Regions from separate parts of the Homo sapiens genome. Here region 2 is linked to region 1. The links come from fine-mapping of genetic effects on plasma protein levels. A gene starts in region 1. The other region holds a variant in brackets. All regions are shown on one strand. Distances are between the middles of the regions. Region 1 holds the start of CD244 (CD244 molecule). Region 2 overlaps CD244 (CD244 molecule).

Region 1 (8,520 bases):
TCTAAGCTTTGAAATGTCCTGCTTGATAAGAGTATCTTCATTACTGGGGACCTTGTTAGCATTGTCAATGCTTATAATGTGATTTATGGTGGGAGCTCTGACCACATAGCATCAACTCAATTTCTGGAGGGGCCAGAGACTATGGTCAGCCACATGGGTGGTCAGCCATGTCTATGTGAGCAAGTCCCAATAAAAATTCTGGACACCAAGACTTGGAAGAGCTTCCCTGCTTAACAATATTCTCTGTGTGTATTGTCACACATAGTTTCTGGGAGAAGTAGGCCCTGTCTGCACAGCTCCACTGGGAGAGGAGAACTGGAAGTGCTGTGACTGACTCCTTTGTTTGGGACTCTCCTGGACCTTGCCTTAGGTACCTCTTCCCTTGGCTCATTTTCATCTGTATTTTTTGCTTTAATAAACTCTAATATTACAGAAGTTATTTGTTGAATTCTTGCAAGATTGGTTGACTATACCTATAAGATCAGTTGGGTTCTTTGTGAAGGCTTGAGTAAAACATTTGTAAAACAGCTTTCAGTGAGTTTTGTGAGTCATTCTAGTTAATTATCAAACCTGAAGATGGTCTTGGGGACCTCAAACTTGCAATTTGTCTCAGAAATGGGTGGTCCTGGGGACTCATGAAATTTGTAGTTGGCATCAGAAGTGGGATTTACTGGAATGACCTTGACTCACCGAAGCTTGATGAAAGCATGGTTTGGGCAGGGGTTTATGAACCTTTGATTCCCAGATGGCCGCTAACCTTTAAATGCCCCTGTCTGAGTCCCCTGTCCCAGACTTATAAAGATCTCGTGAATATGTATGGGAAATGTAGCTAAGGGAGTCTCTGGTTTATATTGATTTTGTAGGTCTTGGGTCCTCGTGCTAAAGTGGCTGAGTTGCACAGAAGGACTCTCTGCACAAAAATTAGGAAGGGCAAGATAAAAACTCCACGAGGGCAGGGTCCATGGTGACTCAGCTAACCAGTCTATCTCAGGGGAAATAGAAATGTCTTCCTTAGAGAATTCATTCATTCCTTCAGCACTTGACAATCTACGAATCAACTCTGAAGAACCAGGCGCTGGGTGAGGCTTGGAAACACTAAGCTAAGGAGAGCATAGACTTTGTGTTGAAGAGCTCAGGGCTGGGGAGGTCAGTGTGTAGAACAAATGGCAGGTTGTTTTTTTTTTTTATTATTGTTGTTTGTTTGTTTGTTTTTGCTCTTGTTGCCCAAGCTGGAATGCAATGGCGTGATTTCGGCTCACTGCAACCTCCTTTTCCTGGGTTCAAATGATTCTCCTGCCTCAGCCTCCTAAGTAGCTGGGATTACAGGCATGCAACACCACACCTGGCTTATTTTTTGCATTTTTAGTAAAAACGGGGTTTCACCATGTTAGCCAGGTTGGTCTCAAACTCCTAACCTCAGGTAATCCACCCACCTAGGCCTCCCAAAGTGCTGGGATTACAGGTGTGAGTCACTGCGCCCAGCACCTTTTTTTTTTTTTTTTTTTTTGTGACAGAGTCTTGCTCTGTCTCCCAGGCTGGAGTGCAGAGGCACAATCTCAGCTCACTGCAACCTCTGCCTCCCAGGTTCAAAGGAGTCTCCTGCCTCAGCCTCCCGAGTAGCTGGGATTACAGGCACACACCACCACACCCGGCTAATTTTTGTATTTTTAGTAGAGATGAGGTTTCACCGTGTTGGCCAGGCTGATATCGAACCCCTGACCTCAAGTGATCCACCTGCCTTGGCCTCCCAAAGTGCTGGGATTATAGGCATGAGCCACTGCGATCAGCCTACAAATAGCAGATATTGTGTGATAGAGTTTGTCAGGGACCACAAGACAGACACACACTCAGTGGTACAGCTGCTCCGAGTTCTGTTTCCAGGGGATGATAGGTCATCCACATGCCTGGTGGGAAGGATGGAGCTGGTGTTGGGGTCAGGATTGGAGAGGCTGATTCCTAATTCACATTCATTAGTGGGTTCCAACAGCTGGATCTTGTTTTCCACCTGTCGTGTGAGGAAGTTTACCCTTCTTTGTTATATCATGTCTTGTGCACCACTTCTCAAGGTTAAGGACATGGCCAGATCAACTCTGAAGAAATTCCCCAGGGTTGAGGGCTGCCCCTTGGGAGCAGACAAAGGAGAGAAGAGATGATAACCATTAGACCCGCTGGAAAAAGCTATTCAGAGCTTAAAAAAATGAAAACAAAACCACAAAAACCTCATCTATGTCCAGTGTTTTTTGTGTGCATATTCTGGAGTATCATTTTTAATTTGATCCTGAAAACTGCCTTGTGAAGGTGGGGAGGATGTATTGTTGACCCTACAGGCTCAGACAGCAACAAGGCCAGAATCACATAGGTTGTAAGTTGCTGAATGGGAGCTGCAAGTCCAAGTCTTTGACTCTAAATCCAGCGCTCTGTCCAGAGCCCCGCTGCTGCCTCTGTTGGCAGCTGAAGCTGTCAGTCTGCTGCCCCCTGCCCAGTTCAGACAGGGTGGCTGGAAATGGACCAAAGGATGGAAAAAGAGAATAAGAGCGGACTTGAAGGGAACTGAAAGTATTTGTTAAGGGGAAAGCAGAAGGAAGAAAGAAAGAGGCATGAACCCTGGGGCCTGGCCTTGAAGCACAGTGTTCCAGGGGAGGGGGGATGCCGCTGTCCCCACCCCTCCATGGGGGCCTAAGCAGATCCAGAGCTGCCTGGCCTTCCTGGAGGGTGGCGTCCAAGCATGGATGGGAAGGCAGCAAAAATAGGCCCATGTCACTTCTGGGAGAAGACAAAAGAGGGAAGAGAGGACTACTATAGAAAAGTAGAAAAAGAGGAAGGGAGGGAATCTAGGCATACAGATCGGAAATGTGGAGCAAAACAAAATTTTTTTTTTTTTTTTTGAGACACAGTGTCGCTCTGTCACCTAGGCTGGAGTGCAGTGGCGTGATCTTGGCTTACCGCAACCTCCACCTCCTTTGCTCAAGTGATTCCCCTGCCTCAGCCTCCCAAGTAGCTTGGATTACAGGTGCACGCCACCCAGCCTGGCTAATTTCTCTATTTTTAGTAGAGGTGGGGATTCACCATATTGGCCAGGCTAGTCTCGATCTCCTGATCTCAAGTGATCTGCCTGCTTCAGTCTCCCAAAGTGTTGGGATTACAGGCGTGAGCCACTGTGCCCCGTGTGAAACAAATTCTTATGAAACAAATTTAATTTACATGTGCTTAAACTTTGGTGTCAACTTGCATGGAATCCCCAGGCTTGCTAGATTTTTCTAGTGCCTCCAGCCCTTAGGTCTCTTCCTATGTTCTCTCAGCTACTCCTCCTTTCCTTCAACACTGTTAGCCGCTTATCCAGGGCCCTACGTTTCAGCCCACTCCTCCTCCAGCCCCTCTCCACTCCACCTCCACAATGTCTGTTGGAATGGAACAGTTGGGGATACTGGCTGTTTGGCCCCCATGGGGGTCTCTCCATATAGGATTCAGAGAATTGGAAGACTTCTTGGGCTGAAGCAGAGAACGGGATGCAATTTTGAAACTGGCTTTGTGAGTCACTGTGAACTTCAAGCACCCTCCCACTTGAGGTAAGCTTCACCAGTTTGGCTTGTGGGAACTGTCAGACCAGCTCCAGGCGCTGGGGCTTTCTCAGTGGCCTTGTCAGCTCACAGCAGGCGTTAACAGCCTCTAATTGAGGAAACTGTGGCTGGACAGGTTGCAAGGCAGTTCTGCTCCCCATCGTCCTCTTGCTGACTGGGGACTGCTGAGCCCGTGCACGGCAGAGAGTCTGGTGGGGTGGAGGGGCTGGCCTGGCCCCTCTGTCCTGTGGAAATGCTGGGGCAAGTGGTCACCCTCATACTCCTCCTGCTCCTCAAGGTGTATCAGGGCAAAGGTAAGGAGGTCCTACCTGGCGTGGGGCGAGGGAGGGACTAGGAGCTGTGCCCCTCAGGGAGATCAGAGCCAGAGCCTCTGCTTGTGCCACATACACAGTCATCTGGAACTTGACTCCGAGCAGCTCCTGACAGCTCTGACAGTCTAAATCAGACAGGACAGGCTGGCAGTGCACTGGGAGGTCTGTGAGAGGGGTATCTGGCCCTGCCACCAGCAATCCAGGAAGTCTTGGGTGAGGAGATTCCTTCCCACTGGCTTCAATTTACCCTTCCGTGTAGTGGAGAGAGAAGCCTCCTTCCAGCCGCCTGTAAAGATGATGAAAATTGCATCCTCCAATTGTGGCATGAGAGAAGAGAAGCAGTCCCAAGGAAGTGGGTGGTTCTCGAGCTCAGAGACAGATGGATGGACCCCTGAGGCAGGAAAGCTGAGCCCAGGGAGGGGAGGGCGAGGCCAGCAGCCAGGAAGAAGCTGGAAGGCATGGTCCCTCATCTCCCCGGCTTCTTCAGCCATCCAGATGCCACAGGAGCCTGGAAATTATTAGGGACATGCAGGGTTGGGGCAGAAGAAGGAGACAATATGAGGAAGCTCCACAGCAAACCTAAAGCTGTCAGCCAGGCATGGAGCCATCTAACATTTACTCCTGGGGATCCCAGCTGAGGGCTGCTCCCCTCTTTCTCCAGTTCTGGGGTCCAGGATGCTCTGAAACCTGGATCCCGCATTTAATTTAATTGAATTAATTTATTTATTTCATTTTTAATTTTTATTTATTTATTTATTTTTTGAGACAGAGTCTCCTTCTGTCACCCAGGCTGGAGTGCAGTGGCGTGATCTTGGCTCACTACAAACTCTGCCTCCCGGGTTCAAGTGATTCTCATGCCTCAGCCTCCCGAGTAGGTGAAATTACAGACGTGCGCCACCATGCTTGGCTAATTTTTGTATTTTTAGTAGAGACCAGGTTTCACCATGTTGGCCAGGCTGGTCTTGAACTCCTGACCTCAGGTGATCTGCCCACCTTGGTCTCCCCCATCCAAAGTGCTGGGATTACAGGTGTGAGCCACCATGCCCAGCCAGGGTTCTGCATTTTAGATCAGTGACTCTGCAGGGGCTTCACGGAGGTGGAGAGCGTGGAATTAGAGGAGGGTACACTCTGGGCACAAAGAGGGGAAACTGAGGCATAGTGTTGTGTGGGTTCAGGGCCAGGTAGAAGCCCCATATGCAATAAAGTCCCATGCCCAGGTACTCAATTCAGTTACCGAGTCCCTGAGCATTCTTGTGTCCTTCAGGAAGACACAGTCAAGGCTCAGGTGGACTCAACATTTGTAAGGATGCAGGCAGCCTAGGGCAGAGCATGATGAGGAACAGGGAGCAGGGAGGGAGGAGTGGAGCCTGCAGCTCTTGTGGGTGGGTTGGGGGGCCTAGTGGCCCAGGATTCTAGGCAGGAGAGCTAGGTTGGAACCTGGTCTAAGGATCCTTGAATGCAGCTCAGACAGCCGAAGGAGGACTGATGGGATTGGTGCCTGGCTGTGGGGATGAGAGTAACAGAGAAGCTGAGGTTATGACCCTGAGGTCATGAGCCTGTGTGACAGAGGGCAATGCTCCCTCCACCCCCATTCCCAGGGCTTCAGCACCATAGCTGGGCTTGGCTATGCCGGCCCTTGCACGGTGAAGCTGGTGAGTGACTTGTTAGGCACAGGGAGGGATGGACTTGGGTCTTCCTGAGCTGCTTCCTCCTCCATCCTGTGTCTATAGGGCAGGCCTGGCATAAGTTGACTGAAGCTGCTCTATTTCTTTAATTTTTAAGCTTTTTAGTTTGAAATAATTGTGAAGTTCCAGGGAAGCTGCAAGAATAGTTCAAACGATTCTTGAATTTCTTTCATCTAGATTCACCAATTAACATTTTATCACATTTACTTTATTTCTCTTTCTCTAGCTGTATGTATATGTGTGTATAAATGTACAATAATTTTTGCTGAACCACTTGAGAACAAGTTGTGACATTATGTCCCCTTACTCCTAAATATTTTAGCACTTATATCCTATGAACAAAGACATTCTCATGTTACTACAGCACAATTGTCAAATTCAGTAAATTTAACATTAATACCATCAAATATGCTTTCCATATTCACATATTACCAATTGTCCCAAGAATATGCTTTATTTTTTTTTTTTGCTGACCCAAGATGCAATCAAGATCATGTATTACATTCAGTTGTTATGTTTCTCATGTTCAGTCTATGACCATACTTTAACCTTTCTTCATCTTTCATGATATTGCATTCTTGAAGAAGACAAGCCAGTTGTTTTGTAGAGGGTTCCTTAATCTGGGTTTGTCTGATGTTCCCTCATATGATTCAGGTTATCATATGCATTTTTATTTATTTTATATCATCATTATTATTATTTTTTAGAGATGGAGTCTCGCTCTGTGGCCTGGGCTGGAGTACAGTGGTCCAATCTCGGCTCACTGCAACTTCTGCTCCCCCGGGTTCAAGTGATTGTCCTGCCTCAGCCTCCCGAGTAGCTGGGACTACAGATGCATGCCACCAAGCCTGGCTAATTTTTGTATTTTTGGTGGAGACAGGGTTTCACCATGTTGGCCAGGCTGGTCTTAAACTCCTGACCTCAAGTGATCCACCCACCTCCGCCTCTCAAAAGTGCTGGGATACCAGGTGTGAGCCACTGTGCCCGGCCTATTATTATTTTTCAAGAGAGGATCTGGTTCTTTCACCCAGACTGGAGTGCAGTGGCATGCTCACGGCTCACTGTAGCCTCGACCTCGCAGGCTCAAGCCATCCTCCCACCTCAGCCTCCCTGGTAGCTGGAACTAGAGGTCTGTGCCACCATGCCTGGCTAATTTTTTTTTTTTTTTTTGTAGATACAGGGTTTCCCCATGTTGCCCAGGGTGGTCTTGAACTCCCGGGCTCAGGCGATCCACCTGCCTCAGTCTCCCAAAGTGGTGGGACTACAAGTGTGAGCCATCATGCCTAGCCATCATATGCATTTTTAAAATTATTTTTTCTTTAAAAAAATTTTTTTCTGTGCCCATTGACAGCAGATATTATATGCATTTTTGACAGGAATACCACAAAAGTGATACTGTGTCTTTTTCAGCGCATCCCATCAGGAGTCATATGATGACAGTGAAATTTAAAAAACCACTTTGTTTACTGAATAATTTAACAGGAGTACTATTTATGTAAGATGTGCATATAACTCTTGAGCATTGCGAAATTCTTCCAAAGACTTCTTCTTTCATGCAGAGTAAAAGCCATGCATTTTACAATGGTGCGTGACCTGGCGTCCAAGACCCACTCCTCTTTGTCTCTCCTCTTGCTCACAGCATTTCAGCCATGTTGCCTGCTGGTCCTGGACCTCGCTCTCTGTTGTATCCACAGTTTTCTCTGCCTGGGATGCTGCTCCTTTGCTGGCTACATGGCCTCTTCCCTCAACCCCTCAGAGTTTTGCTCAAATACCTCCTTTTCAGTGATGCCTTCCCCACTGAAAATGTCAGCCTGCCATTCTGCAAACTCTTAGCTCTCTCTCCACTTAATTTTTCTCCATAGTCCTCATCTCCATTTATGTTCCATCCTGTTTACTTATGTTTTTCATTTTCTGTCTCCCAGTCTCCTCTTCAGCCCCCTAGACTGTAAGATCCTTGAGGCCAGGGCTTTTGTCTGTTTTGCTCACCGTTGTCTCCTCAACATCTAGAGCAGTACCTGCCACAAGTCAACCCTCAGTAGATACTTATTTTCACAATAGCAGCCCCCTCTCTGTTCCCATTCTTTCTCTGGATATATTTTGAATAGCTCTGAACCAGGGCTATTGAGGATTCAGTGGCAAGTAAGTCCAGGGCCCGTTTGTTCAGAGAGCTTGCGCTAGATTGCCTGAGTCACTGTTACTACAGTTGTGATTAGTGCCTGGTGCAGTGCCAATGCAGTAGGTGTTCAAAACATGTTTGTTGAGTGAATAAGTGAATTATTTTCAGGCATCTTAACGGGCAGCCTGGGATGTTTTTTGGGTTAGACATATTGGGAAGGAGGGATCTTCAAATCATTGCCCAGGGAATAGGCCTGGGCCCTAAAATTCATTTTAGACCCAAAATTCAGGTTTCAGTTGTCCGTTCTGAGGAAACCCCAAAGGACACACAGGCTGGAGGCTATGAATCCCCAGATGCTTTACAGCCTGAGTTGAGATCTGCTGGACAATAAAAGGGCACAGGTGACACCTTATAGATTAGCTCCAAGGGTTGCCAGCTGTTTGCGTAGATTGTGTTGGAACTGTCACTTCTCAGGGAGTGGTGTCTAACTGCGACTGCTTTGGCTGGGATCCAGGCAAGCTGTAGAAGGGCTGGAGTCGTTTTTGCTCTTCTCTTCCTCATTGCACCTCCCCTCCAACAAAGGGTGAATGGCAAAGTAGCTGGACACAGAAAAGAGATTGGAATTCAATGTACCCTGGGCTACAGCACCATCCAGAAAGGAATCCACTGAAATCACTTCAAGGAGAGACAGGGCATGTCTTGTTTTTTTTTTTAATTTTTTATTTTTATTTATTTATTTTTATTTTTTTGTGAGACAGGGTCTTGCTCTATCACCCAGGCTGGAGTGCAGTGATGTGATCACAGCTCACTGTAGCCTTGACCTCCTGGGC
Region 2 (3,998 bases), 22 kb after region 1:
AGGGAGTCACCTTAGATGTGGTATTTATAGCATCATGGTTAAGAATTTATCCTCTCAAGCCAAACTGCTGTCTTTACAAAGAGTAAACAAATAAGCTCCCTAGCACCTGTGCTCCCAGCTACTAGGGAGGTTGAGATGGGAGGATCACCTCAAGCCCAGGAGTTCAAGGCTGCAGTGAGCTGTGATTGCGCCACTGCACTCCAGCCTGGGTGACAGAGTGAGACCCTGTCTCTAGAAAACAAAACAAAAGAAAACAAAAACATAACACCAAACTGACTAGGTTTCAGGCTCATCATTCTTTTAACTCATCATACCTTTTAACTTAAATAGTTAAAATGTATAAAGTGTGAAACCTGCCTGTCACATAGTAAGTACTCAAGATTTTAGCTATTGGTCTATGGGATCCCTCAGACTAGGGACACAGAGCTTGGGGACAAGGGGAGGCAGATGGAGGGGATATGCTTTAAGGTGCTCCTAGGTTCTGGGCTCCTCATACTCATCCCCACCCAATTGGCTTAAGGGAAGTCACATCCAGCTGCCCACATTGCTCAGGCCTGACACTCTTCCCGCTACTTTCAGCTTGGGTTCTCTTTCCTAGGATGCCAGGGATCAGCTGACCATGTGGTTAGCATCTCGGGAGTGCCTCTTCAGTTACAACCAAACAGCATACAGACGAAGGTTGACAGCATTGCATGGAAGAAGTTGCTGCCCTCACAAAATGGATTTCATCACATATTGAAGTGGGAGAATGGCTCTTTGCCTTCCAATACTTCCAATGATAGATTCAGTTTTATAGTCAAGAACTTGAGTCTTCTCATCAAGGCAGCTCAGCAGCAGGACAGTGGCCTCTACTGCCTGGAGGTCACCAGTATATCTGGAAAAGTTCAGACAGCCACGTTCCAGGTTTTTGTATTT[G/C]GTAAGTCTCCAGGACTGTTCATACTGCCCTCTCTGATTCCTATAGGCCTCTAAGTTCTGTATTTCCAATGCCTTTCTGATCAGAATCTCTGCTTCCAGATAAAGTTGAGAAACCCCGCCTACAGGGGCAGGGGAAGATCCTGGACAGAGGGAGATGCCAAGTGGCTCTGTCTTGCTTGGTCTCCAGGGATGGCAATGTGTCCTATGCTTGGTACAGAGGGAGCAAGCTGATCCAGACAGCAGGGAACCTCACCTACCTGGACGAGGAGGTTGACATTAATGGCACTCACACATATACCTGCAATGTCAGCAATCCTGTTAGCTGGGAAAGCCACACCCTGAATCTCACTCAGGACTGTCAGAATGCCCATCAGGGTAAGTGGAACACACTGGGCTATAACAAGCGCTGAAGGTTTGGACCCCGCAACCAGGCTCATGTGCAAGACAGATGTGGTATGAGATAAAATCCCTTGGCCTCCTCTCCCAGTGCCTTGTAGCCCTTCCCAGGGTAGCCCTGGCCTCCAGGCACACAGTTCCTGTAAAGCTAGGCCTATCCTACTCTGGAAAAAAATGTTATCCCTATTTCCTTCTGGGAGATGCAAGCTTTTCTTCTGCAGAGGGAGGGCATAGTTGTTTGGTGAGTGACAGTCCTGAAATGGCTCCTGAACATTATTTTCTTCCTGGGAGAGGCTGATGGAGAACTGTCCTCTCCTCTTGAGTGATAACTTTCTCCAAGCCACATAGTTCAAGAGGTAACTACACTGTGCAGCAGTAGCCTGGAGCAGGAGCATCAGGATGACCCCAGGGATACCTAGATGAGTTCTTGGGCTGTTGCTTATGCTCATCCTAAGAGTTACCTGAGTTACCGTTCCACAACTTTTTATTACATAAACAGGGACTTAATGTACCAGCAGCATGGGCATTATAGGAAAAAAAAACCATACAGCTCTCATTCATAAGGAACTTATAGCCAAATGGGGCAACAAAAATAACTACTTGTGGACAAAAAAGAAACAAGACTGAGGCAGGCCGGGCGCAGTGGCTCCCTGTAATCCCAGCACTTTGGGAGGCTGAGGTGGGTGGATCACAAGGTCAGGAGTTTGAGACCAGCCTGGCCAACATGGTGAAACCCTGTCTCTACTAAAAATACAAAAAATTAGCTGGGCGTGTTGGCGGGCACCTGTAATCTCAGCTACTCAGGAGGCTGAGGCAGGAGAATTGCTTGAACCCAGGAGGCGGAGGTTGCAGTGAGTCAAGATCATGCCACTGAACTAGGACACTGGCTTCATCATTCAGAAGCTCTGTGATCTCTTAGAGGTCAGGTGTGGTGGCTCACACATGTAATCCTAGCACTTTGGGAGGCTGAGGCAGGTGGATCACTTGAGTCCAGGTGTTTGAGACCAGCCTGGACAATATGGTGTAATCCCATCTCTATTTAAAAAAAAAAAAAAAAGAAGCTCTGTGATCTCTGGCAGATTCATTAACCTCTCTGAGCCTCAATTTTCTTCCCCCCTTGAGTAAAATGGGGGTGATAATAAGTACCTCACAGGATTGCTGTTAAGAGTAAATGAGATAATGTTTGCAAAGAGCCTTGTCAGCCCTTGGAACACTTAATTCCTTTTCCTTCCTCTTGTTGGCTGGATTATATATCAGGCTACATGTGTGACACAAATCTTTTAAGTAGAAGTTCAAATGAGGAAGAGCCATGAAGGAAGGAATAGTGGAAAAGTGAGACGGAAAACTTGCCTGTACAATGAGTATTTTTTGAGTTAAAAACAAAGGAATGGATAAATGTAACATTTGTTGTGCTACATGTCCCTCAGTATCCATGACGAATTAGTTCCAGGACCCACCTCGCAACCACAGATGCCAAGATCCACGAATGTTTAAGTCCCTGGCATAAACAGGTGCAGTTTTTGCATATAACCTATGCACACATCCTTCTGTATACCTTACTTAAGTCACCTCTAAATTAGTTATAATGCCTGATACAATGTAAATGCTATTTAAATAGTTGTTATACTGTATTGTTTAGGGAATAATGACAAGGAAAAAGGCCTCTACATATTCAATACACATGCATTTTTTTTCCCTGAATATTCTGGATCCACAATTCATTGAATCCACATTGTGGAACTCAAAACTTTGGAGGGCAACTGTATTAGATCATGTAATTAACCCCTATAGGTAGATAACGTTATCCCCTTTTACAGGTGAGAAAATCTAAGAGGCTCTGAGGCATCTTCCAAAAATAAGATGACTTGAGAGGCCCAGAGAGGTTAAATAAATAGTGCAGAGCTCACAGGGTTAGAATTTGAGCCAGGCCTGTCTGATATATCTATGCTCTTGGCATCACTCAGAGGAGGTTAACCAAATGAGCAAAGAGAAAACCTTGACCGTGAGTTCTCAGAGCACGAGGCAATCAGCCACAACACAGAGAAAAGTGGGTTTTGAGGCAGCCCCTGCAGCAGGCAGGTGGGAAGGAAGAAGAGAGCGAGCTGACAGCTCAGTTCTCACGCCTTCTGTATTCCTCAGAATTCAGATTTTGGCCGTTTTTGGTGATCATCGTGATTCTAAGCGCACTGTTCCTTGGCACCCTTGCCTGCTTCTGTGTGTGGAGGAGAAAGAGGAAGGAGAAGCAGTCAGGTGAGTGGAAGGTCCTTAGGGTGGTGCTCCTGCCTGAGGCCTTGGATCCTGTGACTTTGTCCTGCGTCCAGTGGGATGTGTCTGGGAGCACAGCATCTCCTTTTCCTCAACGAGCTTTGGTATGTTTGTGTGCGTGGTGGCGGGGGGCAAGCAGGTTGCTAGGCTCTCTCTCCCAGTTCATGCCTTCTGATCCCAATGCGCAGATTTCCCTGTAGACAGCTGGTTTGGGAGGAGGTGTGGGAGGGGCAGTTCGGTTGCTGCCTCTGTGCTCTTTGGGGTTCCTGGGAAGAGCATTAACTTGCCTCCTTTCTAGAACCTTTTTTAAGGTTTGGCCATTTGGGGTAGAGGTGGGACCTGTTAGAAGCAAAAGCCCTTCTGGAGGTTTCTGCAGCTCTGCTCTTTGTTTTCTTCCTCCCTCAGAGACCAGTCCCAAGGAA

Evidence for each region. PIP is the chance, under the fine-mapping model, that this variant and not a neighbour inherited with it causes the effect. The UK Biobank Pharma Proteomics Project read protein levels with antibody pairs (Olink). The fine-mapping took linkage between variants from a reference panel, not from the people measured, so its PIPs are less certain.
Region 2: its variant is fine-mapped to the plasma level of the CD244 protein (UK Biobank, PIP above 0.99). The variant lies in the coding sequence of CD244. If it changes the protein, the assay may bind it differently, which can mimic a change of level.

Annotation. Positions count from the first base shown.
Region 1 is chr1:160,857,968-160,866,487 of GRCh38, reverse strand. It overlaps CD244 (CD244 molecule), which reads left to right and starts at 3,601. Exons shown (of 9, transcript NM_016382.4): 1 at 3,601-3,871. The coding sequence starts at 3,811. RefSeq lists an enhancer at 3,736-3,785.
Region 2 is chr1:160,838,502-160,842,499 of GRCh38, reverse strand. CD244 (CD244 molecule) reads left to right here. Exons shown (of 9, transcript NM_016382.4): 2 at 599-916; 3 at 1,015-1,290; 4 at 3,451-3,561; 5 at 3,982-3,998. Among named protein-coding and RNA genes, the nearest start is that of CD244, 22 kb to the left of the region's middle. The variant G/C (reference allele first, on the strand shown) is at 916.